Linked DNA regions of Homo sapiens. The protein of the gene in region 1 purifies or fractionates together with the protein of each later gene. This does not show direct contact. Each region holds a gene or a part of one and is shown in the gene's direction. Other genes may lie near its edges.

What was found.
Region 2: the proteins of TRIM43 (region 1) and DHRS4 purify together in Homo sapiens (affinity purification with mass spectrometry; 2 studies listed by BioGRID and IntAct, with this or other methods). This does not show direct contact.
Region 3: the proteins of TRIM43 (region 1) and MIPEP purify together in Homo sapiens (affinity purification with mass spectrometry; 2 studies listed by BioGRID and IntAct, with this or other methods). This does not show direct contact.

Annotation. Positions count from the first base shown.
Region 1 is NC_000002.12:95,594,988-95,600,295, forward strand, and holds the end of TRIM43 (tripartite motif-containing protein 43), read left to right. Parts: intron 1-62; coding exon 63-158; intron 159-1,214; coding exon 1,215-1,445; intron 1,446-2,341; coding exon 2,342-2,364; intron 2,365-2,892; coding exon 2,893-2,990; intron 2,991-4,104; coding exon 4,105-4,586; 3' UTR 4,587-4,791; downstream 4,792-5,308.
Region 2 is NC_000014.9:23,949,747-23,956,780, forward strand, and holds the start of DHRS4 (dehydrogenase/reductase SDR family member 4), read left to right. Parts: upstream 1-4,023; 5' UTR 4,024-4,042; coding exon 4,043-4,170; exon of another isoform or gene 4,171-4,451; intron 4,452-5,001; exon of another isoform or gene 5,002-5,288; coding exon 5,289-5,466; intron 5,467-7,034. UniProt on the Homo sapiens protein: NADPH-dependent oxidoreductase which catalyzes the reduction of a variety of compounds bearing carbonyl groups including ketosteroids, alpha-dicarbonyl compounds, aldehydes, aromatic ketones and quinones.
Region 3 is NC_000013.11:23,865,390-23,872,419, reverse strand, and holds part of MIPEP (mitochondrial intermediate peptidase), read left to right. Parts: intron 1-2,224; coding exon 2,225-2,407; intron 2,408-2,971; coding exon 2,972-3,128; intron 3,129-7,030. UniProt on the Homo sapiens protein: Cleaves proteins, imported into the mitochondrion, to their mature size.

The DNA of each region.
Region 1 (5,308 bases):
CTCAGATTGTGGAATCTTTGGCATTTGACTTTCTGTTGTTCAACCTTGTAATTCTTTTGCAGGAGAAACTCTTAAAGCAAATGAGGATTTTATGGAAAAAGATTCAAGAAAATCAGAGAAATCTATATGAGGAGGGAAGAACAGCCTTCCTCTGGAGGGTAAGTATGAGACCGTGAGTCCTCCTGACCAGCTTGAGACAGGCATGCTGACAACATTTATATTAGCAACTTGAGTTGAAATTCTTATGCCAGATTTTGTCATGTGTTTATTCATAGGCTGGAAAACAACCAGACTGTTCAACATAACGATTGTTCAGGTTTTCTGTAAATGCTTTTCAGATAAGTAAAAAATAAATATAAATTCTGAAGGGCAAGTATGTGCTTAAAATTAATAAGTATTTCAGACAGAGTTTTCTGTATAAAATTAATTATGAAATGTTGATTAAATAGTATATAATTGAGAAATAAAGGCATTTATTGGTGAATATGATATTGTCCAGGGGGAAGAAATCGGGTGGGAACAGTAATTTAAGAAATGTGCCTGTGCTGGTGAAATCTGATAGCAAAGGACCCACATGATGCCAGTCCGAGTAGGAGAAAATGCAACATGAGGAAAAGCTGAGGAGAAGGGATAAAAAATGACTGGGGCAGTGAGAGGATAAATATGTCATTATTGAGAGGAGAAACACAATGGAATGGGGATTAATGTTCTTAGAATGGCAGTGCAATACAGAGTCTATGGATTTGACAGAAGAAAGATAGGAGACAGAAAAGAGGTAGTCAGTTTGAGAGATGGGGGTTAAATTTTTTACTAAGATCCTTTTTGTGTGATGGCTTCTGATCCTGATTATAATATACTAAAAACATTTCTACTAAGAGTGATTGTTCAGGCTGTGAAGTACAGAGATTTGAAACAACAACCTAAGTGAATAACAAAGATTATGTGTATTATCCATGACAATGTAACAATCATAAATTTTAGTTGTTTTCTAATTGTATTTCCGATTTGATTTAAACATTTAAACCTAAAGGGCTTTTTTGCAGGTGTTTGGGAATTGATGAATTACATAAATTTTGAAGGAAGGTCTTGCTTAACTCATCATCCTGTTTGTAAAGGATGGAAAATAAAAGAAGGAATGAGGAGGATGAAGTTGTAGGCTCTGTGAGGTGGAAGTAGGCCTGGGTATATAACCTACAAAATTCATATCCCTACAGGGCAATGTGGTTTTACGGGCACAGATGATCAGGAATGAGTATAGGAAGCTGCATCCGGTTCTCCATAAGGAAGAAAAACAACATTTAGAGAGACTGAACAAGGAATACCAAGAGATTTTTCAGCAACTCCAGAGAAGTTGGGTCAAAATGGATCAAAAGAGTAAACACTTGAAAGAAATGTATCAGGAACTAATGGAAATGTGTCATAAACCAGATGTGGAGCTGCTCCAGGTAAGAATGGAGGATGCCCCTTGAGACACTTTGTGTTAGCTGACCTTTACATCTTTGCCTTCCATTGGGTACCAAAGACATTATTTCCTCATCTCCTGTACTGACGGTGAGAGTCATTCCCACCGGTTATAGAGATAAACTATAACTCCTACGCTAATCATGGAAATAAAGCTTTATGGAATTGTGCAACTAGATTTCCATACAACATTTTCTACCACAAGCTTCCTCCTCCAGCACATTTCATTAAAACTCTGGAAGAAAAAATTTCATGCTTGATTTGAGCCACATTACACTTTGGGGACTAGCCCTGAAAAAGACCACATTGTAGACAGCTGCAGCAATGCGCAGTCACTACTCACACCTTTCTCTCTCACTCAAATTTAGGGTCCTTAATTTATCAGAAATCCATATTGTCAATAGGTCTTACTGGTATAATTGTTAGAGATGAGAATACATTTTAAAAGAGTGGCAGTAATAGTATACGGTAATTCTAAAGTTTTGAAAACCTAAAGACCAGATAGGCAGAATAGCAACTTTTTTGTGTGTTTATTTTGAGACAGAGTCTTCTTCTGTCACCCAGACTGAAGTCCAATGGCCCAATCTCAGCTCACTGCAACTTCTGCCTCCTTGGTTCAAGCAATTCTCCTGCCTCAGCCTCCCTAGTAGCTGGGACTAAAGGCATGAACCACCACACCCCACTATTTGTGTGTGTGTGTGTATTTTTAGTAGAGACGGGGATTTGCCATGTTGTCCAGGCTAGTCTGGAACTCCTGACCTCAGGTGTTCCACCCACCTTGGCCTCCCAAAGTGCTGGGATTACAGGTGTGAACCACCTCACCCAACAAGAATAACAACTTTCTAAAGAAGTCATTTTTTTTTTCTCTCTCTCTCTACAGGATTTGGGAGACATCGTGGCAAGGTATGTTTTTGGCCGTCAGTGCAAACTGGAGCACAAGGCATGCTATGAAAAACATCAAGCTGTTTCCAACAAAGTGAAAACATAATTTACTAACACCATAATGTGTCAGTGTGATTGTGTGTGTATGTGTGTGTAGTCATGTGTTTATGTGGTATGATGAATGTCATCTATGCCTTTTATCAGACATTAATCTTTTCTTACTTTCCCAAGTGACTCAGGGGTTTATGTTTTGAAGAGTGCAATGCAGAGGTTGCTAGAATACAGTTGCCTCTTTTTGCGATTCAGAATCATAATTAGAGATAAACTATTTGGTGGCAGATAGGGAGAGAGGCATTTATCTTTCAGGGGCAGTAGGTTAGAAATGGAGTGAATAGTTAGAAAGATTCCCTAAGAGCCACAAACCCATCCTAGCGTTGTGGAGGTACATTACGGTATCAGAAGTGGGTTTGAATGAAGCATTTTCTGTTGGAATCTGTTTCTTAAACACAGACATCAGAAAGTTAACCAACTCAACCTACTTCCTTGCAGGAGTGAGTCCGTGCTGCTGCACATGCCCCAGCCTGTGAATCCAGAGCTCACTGCAGGACCCATCACTGGACTGGTGTACAGGCTCAACCGCTTCCGAGGTGAGTGTGGCCCTGTTGGTGGGATCCACATGCAATGCCTTCAATTATGGTTTTCTATGGGCAGCTTTCCCAGTGTAATGATCTTTCATCTAGAAGAAGAGAATAGCCTGTGAATAGGTATTTATATTTATAGTTTCACTATCATCAAACAGACAAAACGAAATAAAAGCTGGTGAAATGTAATAGGAATCAGCCATATAACAAATTTCTTAGAAAAATAAAACATGCAGAAGGGCTCTTTAGGACTTTAGGAACCATTCTCTGATACAATTTCATGTATACAATTATTACATGAAGTATACAGAACTGAATTCAGGACATTTCAATTTCAAATTCAGTGCAGTTAACGACTGATTTGAGTGACAGCGTTTTTTTAAAAAAAATACATTTTTAGGTGATGTTTCATAGCATTTATAATTTTAATCATGTTTTTAATCAACTAAAGCATACATGAGTAACTTATATAACAATGCAAAAACTGAGAATCTGTCAACAATAGGAACATGATTTGGTGGTTGATGAGGTCTTAGATAGAACTCCAGGATAGATCATGACAAATCCAGCAGAATAAAAGAAGTCTGTGCCTGAATCTGGCATGAAAGTCAGATAATTTTTGCAAGGAATCAGCACTTTTCAGAAGGCAGATTCAGGTTTTCTCTTTAAGTATGAATTTGCTAGGTTAAGTGGCAGATCATAATATTTCTGGAAAGTGATAACTTTTTTATTTGGGACTAAGAATAGCTCCCCACCTCATCTCCTGTCCAAAGCCTCCTGCTCTGCCCTGACAGAGACGAGACAATGAAGGTTAATTTTATGGCTATGGACTTGGCTGCAGTGGAGGAGCTTCCAGTTTTTCAGTTGTTATGAAAGGTCGCTAACGAGACATAGACATGACCTTCCTCCCCTTTATACTTTTTGAGTTTATGGAAATTGTGATCATCCTAGTTTAGCCATTTACTTGTGCAGATCTCCTAACACCCTTTGATTCCAACATTTTTCCAGACAGAAGTTTCTTTCTAATCTTGACCTGTGTTTTCTAGTGAGAATCTCTTTCTTATCTGAACATAAGAATTTACAAACTGATTTTCACTGGAACATTCTCTTTTTTCTACAGTGGAAATTTCCTTCCATTTTGAAGTAACCAATCACAATATCAGGCTCTTTGAGGATGTGAGAAGTTGGATGTTTAGACGTGGACCTTTGAATTCTGACAGATCTGACTATTTTGCTGCATGGGGAGCCAGGGTCTTCTCCTTTGGGAAACACTACTGGGAGCTGGATGTGGACAACTCTTGTGACTGGGCTCTGGGAGTCTGTAACAACTCCTGGATAAGGAAGAATAGCACAATGGTTAACTCTGAGGACATATTTCTTCTTTTGTGTCTGAAGGTGGATAATCATTTCAATCTCTTGACCACCTCCCCAGTGTTTCCTCACTACATAGAGAAACCTCTGGGCCGGGTTGGTGTGTTTCTTGATTTTGAAAGTGGAAGTGTGAGTTTTTTGAATGTCACCAAGAGTTCCCTCATATGGAGTTACCCAGCTGGCTCCTTAACTTTTCCTGTCAGGCCTTTCTTTTACACTGGCCACAGATGATCAGGATTAAGAAAACTTACTGTTTGGGAACTCCATATACAAGGGAGCCCTTCACTGTTGATACAAAGAAATCATACTGTTCAGGCTTTTTTGTACTTTAGTGTCACTTCATTTTATTGCTATTAAATAAAAAATTTGTAAAAGGCAAAACTTTTTGTACATTTTCTTACAATTAAAATAATCTCTTATGGACCATTACCTAAAATACGTATTGTGATTTTCAAGTGTTTGTGAATTTATTGGATGGAATTCTGGAAATATGTGGGTGTGTGATTCCAACTTAATGATCTCATTCAGGAACAACTTTTGTACATCATGGGCAGACGGGGTTTTGTACAATGCACTTGTAAGTGTGAGAGTTCCCTCCTATTAATACAGTAAATTCTACACCTCATCCCTTTGGGGGGAAAAATTTATTTCACACAGAAGTTGTCACTGAATCTTTGGGCTAGAACAGGAATTTAACAGTCATGCATCCTATGGCAACAAAATACATTCTGAGAAATGCATTATTAGGCGATTTCATCATTGTGTGAACATCAGAACACACTACAAAAACCTAGATAGTATATTCATCTACAGACATAGGCTAATGGTACAGCCTATTGCTTTTCTGAGAATTTGCTAGCGATGTCTGAGCAAGAACCAAAAGGGTTTAACCCACATTGAATTCTGCAGCTGTTTAATAAAGCAAACAGCATCATCCAGGGAATAATAGATGT
Region 2 (7,034 bases), on another chromosome or scaffold:
GGATACACAAAGCCAAGAGCTATATGGGAAGAAGGTAAAAGAACCATAGGGAAGAGTTACCTTTTACTTTTCAAATAATTTTCTGTCCCTTTTTAAAATAATGTGTTATTTATATAATTTAATGAGTAGATGTGTTGATTTGAAAAACACACTGATCCTGAAAGTTTAAATTCCAGTTGAGAGAAAATTGATTTCTATGAAAACTATGGATTGCCCAACAATGCCAGAAAACTGAAGTGTAACTATGCAACACACACAGTGGTCAAGGTTGTCATCAGTCACTCTGATTTCACATAGAGAATTTAAAACACCTAATTGGGTGCAGTGGCTCACGCCTGCTATCCCAGCACTTTTGGAGGCCAAGGCAGGAAGATCACTAGGTCAAGGGATCGAGATCATCCTGGCCAACATGGTGACACCCCGTCTCTACTAAAAATACAAAAATTAGCTGGGTGAGGTGGTATGCACCTGTGGTCCCAGCTACTTGGGAGGCTGAGGCAGGAGAATCACTTGAACCCAGGAGGCAGAGGTTGCAGTGAGCTGAGATTGTGCCACTGCACTCCAGCCTGGCGACAGAGCAAAACTCTGTCACAAAGTAAAAAAAAAAAAAGAAGAAGAAGTTAAAATGCCACAGTCCTTGGTGGACTTAACAAAAGAAGATGAATGTGGGAATAAAGACAAAGACAAAAGAGTATTTTGGAAGAAGGGGTCAGGAGGCTCCTTGCTTCTAGTGAAGAAGGGCCCTGAGCTTCTATAGCCCTTTGTATTTATTGAGTAAAGGAGATAGGGAGAAGGGGGTAGTTGTCAGTCAGCTGCTTGGCTTAGTGCAGGCTTGCATGACTGCATTCTTTGAACAGTAGTCTCCAGATGTTCCTGTAGATAACCTCAAGGAGCACAGCACCAGGGAGTCATTGCCCTCAGCAAACCTTCTGGTAGCAGGCGCAGAAGTGAGTTTGCCCACATTCTGCATTCATGATAAACAGTTTGCTGTTAGATCATACAGCCTTCAGTGGAATGCTGAGTTGGTCACGACCCTCAGGCCTTTGGCTCCCTACATTAAAACACCCATTTCACCAGACTAAAAATATTCAATAAAATTTATAAAAAGCACTTAACGCTTGCCAGCATTTAGTAAGGAAGTGCTCAATAAATACTGTTAACACTCTTACTATTACTTTCTCTGCTTGGTAGTTGTCCTAACCCCACACCAGCCCTCCCACATTGCCTAATTCTGACTTGTGTCAGTGATGCAGGACTCGACTCAATCTAGGACAGCTATTGCAAAACGCAAGACTTAAATTCCACCCCAGGTGAAATCTCTTCTGGACCGCAGGCAGCCCTTGAAAAGGATGGGAGTAGTGCCCTCACTCATGAAGGCATTTGTCCCTCAAGATAGGCAGATGTTACCACCTCCATGTAAGAACAATCCCATTGCCTGTTACAGTTCCCATTTCAAAGAGATACTCCCACATATGCATGTATTTCCCTGAAAGATTTCCCGTTATTTATTTATTTATTTATTTATTTATTTATTTATTTATTTAGATGGAGTCTTTCATTCTGCTGCCCAGGCTGGAGTGCAATGGCATGATTTTGGCTCACTGCAACCTCTGCCTCCCACGTTCAAGCAATTCTCCTGCCACAGCCTCCTGAGTAGCTGGGATTACAGGCACATGCCACCAGGCCCGGCTGGTTTTTGTATTTTTAGTAGAGATGAGGTTTCACCATGTTGGCCAGGCTGATCTCGAACTTCTGACCACGCCCAGCTAATTTTCGTATTGTTAGTAAAGAGGATTACAGGTGTGAGCCACCATGCCCAGCCCAAGATTTCCTGTTCTTATCTCCAATAAGCGAGCTTGATGAGGAGTAGTGCTAGAGAGTCCCATACTTCTTGACTTCCTTCCATCCTTTTCTGCTCACAGGCCCCCTCCCTAATGTCCCCTGTGCTCTCCACAAAAGAAATAGTGCTAGAGGCCAAATAGCAACCCTGCCCACACAAGGAAGGGCCATGTAATGTTCACCAAGCACCCAAGCCACAATTCTCTCTTCCCAGAATCCTTTGCTCTTTGAAGTGTAGTCTTCCTCACCTTCCTGCCAACCTCAGCCCCTGAGTCCACCTGTCTACCTCTGAAGAGAAGGGAAAGAGAGATCAAACGCCCCCTGCAGGCCTGTCCCTTTGAACCAAGCCCTGAGAACCCCCGCAGCCGTCCTCCTGTGTACCCTCCCCCAGCCGCACACACAGATGGAGAGCCCTGGGAAGGGTTCCCACAGTGCGTTAGCTCCAAACAGTGCAAGAGGACAAGCAGTGTGGCGCTTCCAGCCTCTGTCAATAATTCATGAGGCTCAGACTGAGGAGCACCAGTCAGAGTCAGCCTTCCCTGGACATGGGGAAAATTATACTGAAGCTCTCCTGTCTCATCGGGATCTGCTGAGTAGCAAAGCAGAGTATTGCAGCTGTAACTTCTTGGCTGAGGAAAACACTAGAATTCCAGTGCAGGCCGTTCTATTACTTGCTCACCATACACCCCCTTTTGAATGTTGAAACCCTTTTTCAGCTGCTCAGCTTACCTGCACATATACTAAATGAATCTTGAGCAAACATGAATTCTATTCAAAAGTCATGCCTAGAACTGGATTTCACAAACCAGGATTCTTTCCCCTTTAATTGTAGGGACTGGCATAAGGCTGCCAAACTGGTGATTTCACCAATAACACATCTCTAAACCTACCCATCTGCTTTCATCATCTTTTCTAAAAGAAAACACTAACACACACACACACACACAAAAAGAAGCAAACGTATACTCCACAATAAAGGACTGTTAAATAAGCTTAGCTTTATGAAACTCACTGTAATTGTTTCCTTTTCTCATTTTGCCTTGAACTAGTGAAAACGCTGCCATGAACCAGCACTGCTTCTCAGTCTGGCTTTGGAGGCCAGTGGGTTAAACCAATTCAGATGCTTGCATTTGGGTCTGTTGGGGCCTTTCTACACTGTACCATAAGCCATCCAGATTTCTTCATTCTCCCGGAAACCCAGGAGGGAGATCATTTCAGCCCACTTGGCAGAAGTGCAGACTGAAGTCTTGGACACAGAATTTATAGCTGGCAAGGACTTTATTCATCATCCATACCCTCAGTAATTTACAGATGAAGAGTCTGGCCCAGGGCACCAATAATAATCACTACATGGTGGCAGTAACTACTATGTGCTTAGTAGCTTACAGTTCATAAAGAGATTTTGCATTCAACAAATATTTATTGAACTAAGATGGCGGCTAAGACCTGGGGACAGAGTGGTTAGGGAGAACTTGAGTGCCCCGAGTTCTTTGCATTTCCACCACTGCTTGAGGGACTGTCCAGCCTCCTCGCTACCACTTAGCCCCTGTAAAGGAGGAAGTCCCTTTGTCAACGGACATGAGAATGCTGTTTGGCCAATGACCATAGTCTGCCCTCCAGGGCCCGTGAAGATGGAAGAGACCTTGGGCAGAGTGAAGGGCAGTGCCAGGCCTGGCGCAGCTACTCCCTATCACGTCTCTCTCCCAGGCTCTTCCAGCCTCACCTGGTGGACTCCATGGCGACCACAGGCCTCACCTCCATGGGCAGTCTCAAAACATTTGCCCTCCTGTGGGCTGTCACACACATAGACCCAGACTTTCTTGGAGAAGGAATTCTGAAGAAGCAAAAGCAACCAACTCAAAACCCCCACTTCCCAGAGAAGAAAAGGTGGGCAAGCAGATGCAGAAAGGCAGCAGCCAAAGCCTGCGGGTTCCTGCAAGGGCCAGGGGAGGGGCGAGCCCTACAGGCAACTTGAACGGAGAGCTCACCCGCCAGCCCGGAAAGGCAAGCCCCAGTCAGGCGGAAGGTAGATGGTGGAGGGGCGCCGCGGCGGATGGAGGTGCCCAGGGCCACAGACCGCTCACAGCGGTACCGGGGCGGGGAGCAGGGCGGGCAGGGAATCGGCCCGCCCTTCGTCCTGCCCCTCGCCCTACTCTGTCACCGCCCCTGGGAAGAGTGGAACCCATACTTGCTGGTCTGATCCATGCACAAGGCGGGGCTGCTAGGCCTCTGTGCCCGGGCTTGGAATTCGGTGCGGATGGCCAGCTCCGGGATGACCCGCCGGGACCCGCTCGCAAATAAGGTGGCCCTGGTAACGGCCTCCACCGACGGGTGAGTGCTCCGGCCGGAGTTTCTGAGGCCCTGGCTGCCTGGAAACAGGCACTGGCCTCTCATCCTCGGCCTCCGGTGCCCCTGTCCTCAGACCTTACACGCTGCCAAAGTCTGGCCCTGGAAAAAAGGTAGCCACGTGGTCCGCCTGAAGCCACTCCGAATCCCCTAGCCCTGGACCCTCCCTTGCCAGCCCTCCTGTCCCTGCTACCTCTGGCACAACTGTGCCACCTCTGTGCAGCCCTATCGATCTAGTCTCCCCAGTGTTCTGGGCTGCCCCAGTCAACCAGCGCCACCTAGCGTCTGGGAAGACCAGAAACTGGAAATCCAAGGAAATCTGGATTTCAAAATACTATCCCACGGCCTCCAGCACTTTGAAAATGTACCAGACATTCTATTTGGGCACCGGAAAGTCCCCCGGAACCCCTCCCCCTTACCTAGATGGGACACCAGAGCCATATGTCGAGATTTTTGTTTAGGTCGGTACATCTGGGCCGACCTTGCCCAGCCTGTTTCTCACCCACCATTCTTGTCTATCCTGGTCCTCATTTCTACAGGACTTTGCTAGATGCCAGCTCTTCACAAAACTAAAATACAAATGTAGGTAAAATGCTAATAGCTGACAAATGCAAAATGTGTAACTCTTCCTCCCAAGGCAATATTTACATTTTTGACCGGAGACCATCTTTTCACATGCACCCCAAAAAATAACTAAGGATAGAATTTTGAGAATGATGTAGACGAGTAAGAAAGAAACCTGGGGGCAGGGCTGTTCTGAGTGAGACCCTCAAATCACGGAAGTGGCTGCTGCTGCAAACCCAGCTCATTTCTCACCTCTCAGTCCCAAGAGGGGATGAAGCCTGTCACCCATGGTGGGAACTGTAGAAAGTGATGTCAGTTCTTGGGAACTGAGGCTGTGGTCCAGGTCATAATAAAAACAAGTAAAGGAATGCCAAAAATGGCCATGCCATTAAGCCTGTTTTACACATAGTAGGCACACGTAGGGGTTATATAGAGAAAGAGCCAGAATTCAAACCCGGGCAGTCTTAACTTCAGAGCTCATACTGTCGACCTCTTCCCCTGCACAGGCCTTAGCAGTCTTTGTCTCTTTCTGCTCACAGGATCGGCTTCGCCATCGCCCGGCGTTTGGCCCAGGACGGGGCCCATGTGGTCGTCAGCAGCCGGAAGCAGCAGAATGTGGACCAGGCGGTGGCCACGCTGCAGGGGGAGGGGCTGAGCGTGACGGGCACCGTGTGCCATGTGGGGAAGGCGGAGGACCGGGAGCGGCTGGTGGCCACGGTGAGCTGCAGGGAAATGGGCACAGAGCCAGGAGGTGGAAAACGGAGCCAGCCTGAGCCTCCTTCCCTGCTTTCCTAGACAGCAGCACATTTTTACTGTGTGCCTTTCTATTATGTCCATATACTAACGTCAGAGAATCATCCCATCTCAGTCAGAGAATTTTAAAACATTCTAATGCTTCAACCCTGCATCATCCCTTGAGTACCCCAAAGAAACAGCTGGTACTGGTTCTGCAGTAATTTTCAATCTAATTGAACAGATGTGAAGGGTAAATACAATCACAAAATACATGTTCCCACCCATGAGTTAATAAACATTCCCCTCTTCTTCAGCTTATAGAGTCAAGTCCCTGGGAACCTCAGGAAGCAGCCCACCATGTTTCAGCCACTTACTATGTGCCATTTCCTGTGTTCAGAGCCTTACACAGGTTATCTCTAGACCTGACAACAACCCAAGCAAGGCAAGGACTATTCTCTCAGTCTGCAGACCCTGGCTCAGATAGCTGGAGCAACTTCCCAAGGTCCCACAGCCAGTAAGGAAAGACCCAGACCTCCCAGGCTCCCTTCCTTTATTGGCTGCCTGTGGACTACCGGGTACTGGACTTTAGTCTCAAAGAAAGTATATAAGTCGATGTCAGAATTAGTAGTGGACACCAGCCTTGCAGCTGCTGAAGCAAATATGAAGCATTCACAAAGGAAGCTCCTCTTCCCTTGAGGCTCACGGCATACACTTTATTTCCCAGAGTGGAAGGGAGAATCTACCCAAAAATGGAAAGTACAGGATTCTGCTAACAGATTGGAAGGTTGGCAGAAATAATTTGCATAATCTTAGAAGAGGAGGATCTTAAGCAATAGTAGACAGTAGTATGGTAGACAGAATAGGGTAATTCCATTTTTAAGGAACTGTCTGGCAAATGCTCAAATGTGCATTGGAAAGAGCCAAATATGAGTCCAAGAAAGTCACAAATGTGAGTCCAAAAAAGCTTGGCTTAGGCTGATGGACAGACCCCAAGATTGGGGCCTTGATCCTGATGGTGGAAGGAGCCGTTTGGGAGTCTGGATCAATTAGCACTAACCATATGACATGTAGCAATGTAATGTGAAAATCCTCCCGGAAAAACATCCTGTGGCCCCCACCAGGTTCACTTAACATGGCCTACAGGCCTGGCCCAGAGGTGGTACTTGAGCTAAACCTTAAGGAATGGATGGGAATGGACAGATGGAATAGTGATGAGGTTCCAGATAACTCTGCAAAATGAGCAGACAGCCAAGGAGGAACTGAAGGAAACAGAGGAGCACTGTCAGGCCACAGTGGAGAGCACAGGCTCAGGAGTACTGCTGGGGAAGGGGCTGCATTGGAAAGATAGAGGCCATGGGCCTCCATATCCTTTTTTTTTTTTTTTTTTTTTTGAGACAGAGTTTCATTCTTGTTGCCCAGGCTGAAGTGATATGGCACAATCTCAGCTCACTGCAACCTCCGCCTCCAGGTTCAAGCAATTCTCATGCCTCAGCCTCCCGAGCAGCTAGGATTACAGGCATCCACCACCACGTCCAGCTAATTTTTGTATT
Region 3 (7,030 bases), on another chromosome or scaffold:
GGGCAATCTTGGCTCACCGCAACCTCCGCCTCCCGGGTTCAAGCGATTCTTCTGCCTCAGCCTCCTGAGTAGCTGGGATTACAGGCATGTGCCACCACGCCCAGCTAATTTTGTATTTTTGGTAGAGACGGGGTTTCTCCATGTTGGTCAGGCTGGTCTCGAACTCCCGACCTCAGGTGATCCACCTGCCTCAGCCTCCCAAAGTTCTGGGATTATAGGCGTGAGCCACTGCACCCGGCCTTAATTTTTAAGGTCTCATACAAATATAACTTATAAGTTTAAATGTAATAGAAATGTTTATTTTTAACATTATTTAATAACACAGAAATTTCATAGAATTTTTCAAGAGTTCAGATTATTGTACATTTCATTGTTACCACAGAATGATGAAGTGATATGCCTGGCAGATCATTGAAGTTGGCATGAACTCAGTTTTGATTTTTCCAGAGGTTTTATCAGTAGATAAAATCTTCAAAGTAGTTAATTTTATCACATTTTTTTTTTCAAAGTAAAAGTTTTGAAGACAATTTTGGAACTGTAATGTGATTTCAAAATCTTGTTCATCTTTTTTGTTATTCCACTTGTTACCATTAGGTGGTGATAAATGGCCATATCAAACAAAATAAGCAAAGAGAAATCTGGACTGTAAGGAAATGGGAGTCTCCTAAAACTTTTTTCCATGAAATTTGAATTTTCTATATTGAAATTCTGGGGATATTGATATATACTCAATTTTTTCAGCATCTTATCAAGCATGCCTCTACATCATCTATGTTTATCTTTAAAAAGTATATTAGTATTGTGGCTTAATCATTTTTTAGGAGCATAGAACAGTTTAGAACTTGTTAATTGCTATCTCCTCTCCCAGAAAGATTTGTGTACACTTTCACCTGAAGCCCAACATGAGCCCAGTGCGGAGCCTGTCTAGTTTTTTGGTAACCAGTAACTGAAAATTCATATGCAGAGCCTGTCTAGTTTTTGAGTAACCAATAACTGAAAATTCATCTGCAGAGCCTGTCTAGTTTTTGAGTAGCCAATAACTGAAAATTCAGCCCTTCTCCTCCAGTCAGCCTAATTATGTGGTTTCTAGTTTATATTTAATCTTAGAGCATTTATGGCAACCCCTTTGCTAATACACGTTTTCTCAGGTTATTGTGTATTACAAAGATATGACTGCAAGATTAAACCTAAGCAGATGTGTCCGCACCATCCACGTCCTCATCACTGACCATTTGAAGGCCTGGCAGGAGCAAGGACCATGTGCCACATGGCAGGGACACAGAGTAGAAGAAAGGACCATGCCCTGGGGTTCCAGTCTGCTTCTTAGACTTCACTGTATCATTCTGTAGCAGCTCAAGCACATGCAAAATCAGAACTTTATTCCCCCCTGAGACAGGGTCTCGCTTTGTTGCCCAGGTTGCAGTGGTGTGATCGTAGCTCACTGAAGCCTTACCTCCTGGGCTCAAGTGATCCTGCTGCCTCAGCCCCACATAGGGCTGGGACTGCAGGCGTGTGCTACCACACCCAAAATCAGAACTTTTAAAATGTGCTTCCCCCTTCTGGAGGCTCACTACACTTTTGCAAATAACTGTTTTTTTGTTTTTTGTTTTTTTTTGAGACAGAGTCTCCCTCTGTCTCACAGGCTGGAGTACAGTGGTGCGATCTCGGCTCATTGCAACCTCCGCCTCCTGGGTTCGAGCGATTCTCGTGCCTCAGCCTCTTGAGTAGCTGAGATTATAGGCACGTGCCACCACGCCCAGCTAATTTTTGTATTTTTAGTAGAGATGGGATTTCACCATGTTGGCCAGACTGGTCTCCAACCCCTGACCTCAAGTGATCTGCCCTCCTTGGCCTCCCAAAGTGCTGGGATTACAGGCGTGAGTCACTGCACCTGGCATGTGTTTTTCAATGTTGTTAATTTCAACAATTAGTTATATAACCTAGACATAAAATAGAACTAGAAGTTATGTAAATCTTAAAACATAGAAACATCAGAAAACCATAAGTATGATCTTTTTGTTAGAATATTAAATATCTGTTAAAAGTAAAATTAATATATTATTTATAATATAGTAACAATATATTCATTTTACTAAACTAATATTTTATTAAGTGATAATTCAACAATATATATGTTGATTTGACATATTTATATTTTGTTTATTAAATTGTGAAATATTAATTCAAAACGCCTTTAAATAACTTTTACTCCTCCTGCATACAGCGTAAAAGAGCAGTGGACCTCAATGTTAAAATCTTGGATTTGAGTAGTACATTTCTTATGGGAACCAATTTTCCCAACAAGATTGAGAAGCATCTCTTACCAGAACACATTCGTCGTAACTTTACATCTGCTGGGGATCATATCATAATTGATGGTCTCCACGCAGAATCACCAGATGACTTGGTATGTATGTTTCATTCTCTTTGTTGTTTAGGTCCCATTTGTGTGTTGCTACTGTTTTAACCCAAAATTCAGTGATAATATAATAGTATCCTTAAAAACTTTTTAGCATTACTAAGCCCTAAAAATTTAACTTGTGGAATTATTAATGCCATAAACACTTTAAAGAATGAAAATGATTTAATTACTTATATTTCATACAAGACTCCTTATTTTTAAAGTATGATTAATAACACCATTAACTGACATTCTAGACTACAGAGACTTTTAAATTCATGCAGCCTTACTTCTCCTGGTTAAGACGCTTTATAGCATAGAGATCCACGCACTGGGTAGAGGTTTGCCCCACCGTACCTCAGAACAGTACCCTAGAGCTGCAGTCAAGTATGCTATTGCATCCCATGCTATTTTATGACTCTGGAAGCTTTATGGCCTCGTGTAGACCATTGCTTTATTTTGAAAGCAGTGATCATCTGCAGATCAAGTGGTGAGCATGAGCCTGTGTTATTGTTGCATAGGACTGTGTGATGATATTTATAGCCTTCACCATTTACTTTTTAAACGTAGGTGCGAGAAGCTGCTTATAAAATTTTTCTTTATCCCAATGCTGGTCAATTGAAATGTTTAGAAGAATTGCTCAGCAGCAGAGATCTTCTGGCAAAGTTGGTGGGGTATTCCACGTTTTCTCACAGGGCTCTCCAAGGAACGATAGCTAAAAATCCAGGTAAGCCTGTTTATCCAACATTTAAGGGCAAAATAGGATTTTTATGAAACTGAGCTTTTGATTTTAAATAGCTGTAAATTAGTGTTCTATTTTTAATACATGTAGAGAACCATTTATTGAGATTTTCTATGTATTTTTATAGGAACCATTTTTAAATAGAGCTAATAATTTGGCATAATTCTGTCCAACCAAAGAATTTTATTTTATGTGAATGTTGAGAGTAAAATCATAACCTAAATTTTCATTTTGATGTTAGTCTAAATTGTTTTCATTTTAACACAGTTTCTGTGCTGAATTTGACAAATTGGTTAGAATTAGTGTAAGAGAATGAAAGATCAGTATGTTTACTGAGGTCAAGGTTAAATGTAGGTTAGGTCATATAAAAAACACACAGTCAGATAAGCCTCCTTTTCAGAGAGAAGAGTACTGCTTAGGAAGGTTTGTGCTAGGTGAGGTGTTACGGAAGTGTGTCGTTGGGTTTGTCATAAACTTGCCTTGTGCTATGTTGAGTTCCTTATGATTCATAATGTCTAAGAGAAAATGTTACACAATAATAATATAAATGTACATAATACGTTTTTTCAGAAGCATTTATTAACTTACAGTTGTAATTTAGGTGGTGAGTCAGGAGTAGGGTGGCCGTGATGATGGAGCTGCGTGAGACTCAAGGTCTTGGCAGTGAAGTTGCAAGACTTAGTGAGGGTGAGAGGGAGGAGGAGGCATTGTGGTGGGCCCCCTGGGTTTCTGGTTGTACATCTGGTTAGACATTCCACTCACCGACAGAGGGGACACTGGGGGCAGATCACAACCTGAATCCTCGCTTGTCTTTATTCCTTCTGTGCTTATCCCTTCTCACCCTAGCATGTTCCTCTCTTCTCCAAAGTTCTCTAAATGCACTCAATCTTACTTCTTACTCTTTCGTAAACAACTGTTTCCCTTGACCTGTCAGGGCTCTCGGTTAAGCTACAGGCGTGTCACGCTCATTGCGGCCTGGGTTCCCTTGCTCGTGTCACTCTCCTATGGAGAGCAGCTTTTCTTCCTGGTCTGCCTGTTAAAATCTTACCCCGTTTTTTTAGTGCTCAGCTCAAAACCCACCTCTTTCATGAAGCTGGTTAAACTTTTTCACTTTCCTTGGACTCCTTTGTCCCCGAACCCTTAAAACACTTACATTTTTTTTCATATAATCGAAGCTCCTAAACAGATATAATATGTATGTTATGTATTAAATGTGTGTTTTTAGTGTATGTTTTTTCTTTTTTTGTAAGTATCAGTTTGGTGAAAAGTATGTTTTTCTGTAGTCGCTGTTGTCAACAGTTTGATTATAATAGTACCATATTTTTATTTTATATTTATATAAAATAATAATATTAGAATATCATTCAGTGCTTATCCTGTTGTTATCTCATTTCCTTCCTCTGCAGCTTTGTGAGGTAGGTATTTGTATTCGTGTCACAGATAAGGAATCTAAGGTTAGGTTATATTGCTAAAATGTGGCAGAACTGAAGCCTAAACACATATGCTACATTTATGGTTTTCCACAGGCTGCTTGAGACCTAATGCCCTATGTTTTATATCATCTACATCCCCCTTTTGTTTATTAATTCAGCAAATATTTACTGATTGCCCACTGTATGTCAGATATTATTCTCGGTCAGGGAAATAAGTCAGTGTACAAAGCAGAAGAAAATTCCTATCCTTATGCAGTTTACATTCTTGGGAGCAAGGGAAGAACAGTAAAGAACGAAATAAGTAGATAAAGTATGTGGTATGTTATTAGTTAATACAAGCCATGGAGAAAACTGAACAGGGAAGGGGATAAGGTATGTGGGCATGTAGGCTGGTGTTGGAGTTTTAGAGAGCATTGTCGGAAGGCTCACTTAGAATGTGGAATGTGAGCGTGCTCTTGACAGACACAAGCATGAGGCTGTGGCTCTTGAGGGGAGAAAGGTTTCACGCAGAGTCACTATCAAGTGCTAAGGTCTTGAGGCAGAAAAATGCCTGCCACGTTTGAGGAGGGCAGAGTGGCTGAAGCGCAGCGTGTGCAAGGAGAGTGGCGAGAGGTGGGAACAGACTGACAAGGGGCGGCATTAAGTAGAGACTTGATGCAAGTGCAGCAGGTCACTGTGGGGGTTGGGGCAGAGGAGTGAGATGATCTGACTCCAGTGCTAATGGTGAGTCAGTGCTGCTGTTCCTGAGAGAAGACTGCAGCAGGGCCAGGGTAGAAGAGGGCCTGTTTAGATGCTGTTTTGCAGTAACCATGATGAGAAGTGTTGGCATCTTGACCAGGTGGTAGCAGGGAAGGTGGTAAGATGTGATCAGATTCTGGGTACAGAGTATTTGGAAGAGGGAGCCAACATTTTCGACCTAAGCAACTAGAAAGAGAGTGAGTTACTACTGTTAACTAAGATTGGGAGGACCGGAAACTTGGTTTGTTTCAAGTTAAGTTTGAGATACCAAATGAGGTTCAAGTGGTGAAGTTGGGTAGGCAGTTAGATGGAGTGTGGAGTTCTGAGCTTCATATGTAAGTCTGAACCTCTAAAATGAGATTCTGATACCACTAAGAGAGTGAACTTAAAGAACAAGTCCAAGGACTGCGCTCTGGGGCCTTCAAGTTTAAGAGGCCAGGCATGTGAGGAACTGCTAGTTAACGCTGCCAGATGTAACGGCCACTAAGGGAGGTGGAAAGTGATTACAGGGTGTGGTCCTGGAGGCCGCGCAGAAGGTCTGTCTACAGGAGAGGGGAGAGATCAGCTGACTCATGCTGTGGCCAGGTCAGATGTGAGGAGGGCTGGGCATGACCACTGGCTGTAGCAGCGTGGAGCTCACTGGACCTGCAGCACCCAGCTCCAGATTCCGTGACTGGCAGGTCACCCTTGTGCACTAAGTGCTTGGTGTGCTGATGTATTGGCAGGGGGCTGTTGTGCACATCATCACGTAAGATGTGCTCTGGGTCCTTGAGGATTTAAAGCTTAGTTGAGGAGCTGGATATATGCATATAAAAAGATAAATAATAATAGAGGTTGGCACGTTTTCGGTGTCGATGGAGTAGTACAGACAAAACAATGCCATGGGATTTAGGAGCTCGGGGCATTTGTCAGATGCATCTGTGGCTGTGGAAGGCGCCCTGAGGGAAATGAAACTGTCATGCACAGTGATGGAGTGAGTCCTCAGCAGAGCAGAAGGAAGACAGAGAGGCTGACTGAGGCTAAGGCGGGCATTCATGTGGCTAGTGAATGAGGAGGTAACTGCGGTGAGGCACTTAGTGGGGGGTTTCAAACTGAATCTTAATATGACAATTCTCTGGGGACACTAATTGAGGCAGGCCAGATGTGGTGTCTCATGCCTGTAATCTCAGCACTTTGGGAGGCTGAGGCAGGCAGATCACTTGAGGTCAGGAGTTCAAGAACAGCCTGGCCAACATGGTGAAACCCCATCTCTACTAAAAATACAAAAATTAATTGGGCGCGGTGGCGGGTGCCTGTAATCCCAGCTACTCAGGAAGCTGAGACAGGAGAATCGATTGAACCCTGGGAGGCAGAGGTTGCAGTGAGCCGAGATGGGACTTCTGCACTCCAGCCTGGGCAACAGAGCAAGACTCCATCTCAAAAAAAAAAAAAAATTAATTGAGGCAGATTCTTCACATGTAAAATGACTGGAAGAATAAGATGGGTGAATGTTAAAACACGGTTATTAAGAAATAAAACGTATACAAGCATACATAGGGATTCATTTGAAAACAGTTTGGTATGGTACCTGGAATATAATCCTAAAATGAGATTTCATTGTTGACTAAATAATGTCTTTGTTCCCCAAAAATTCCTATTGTTGTTTCATATGGCACATGAGCCAGTGTTTTCAGAATTCGTATACACAGGACTTGTTAAGTATTGACAGTGGCAAGA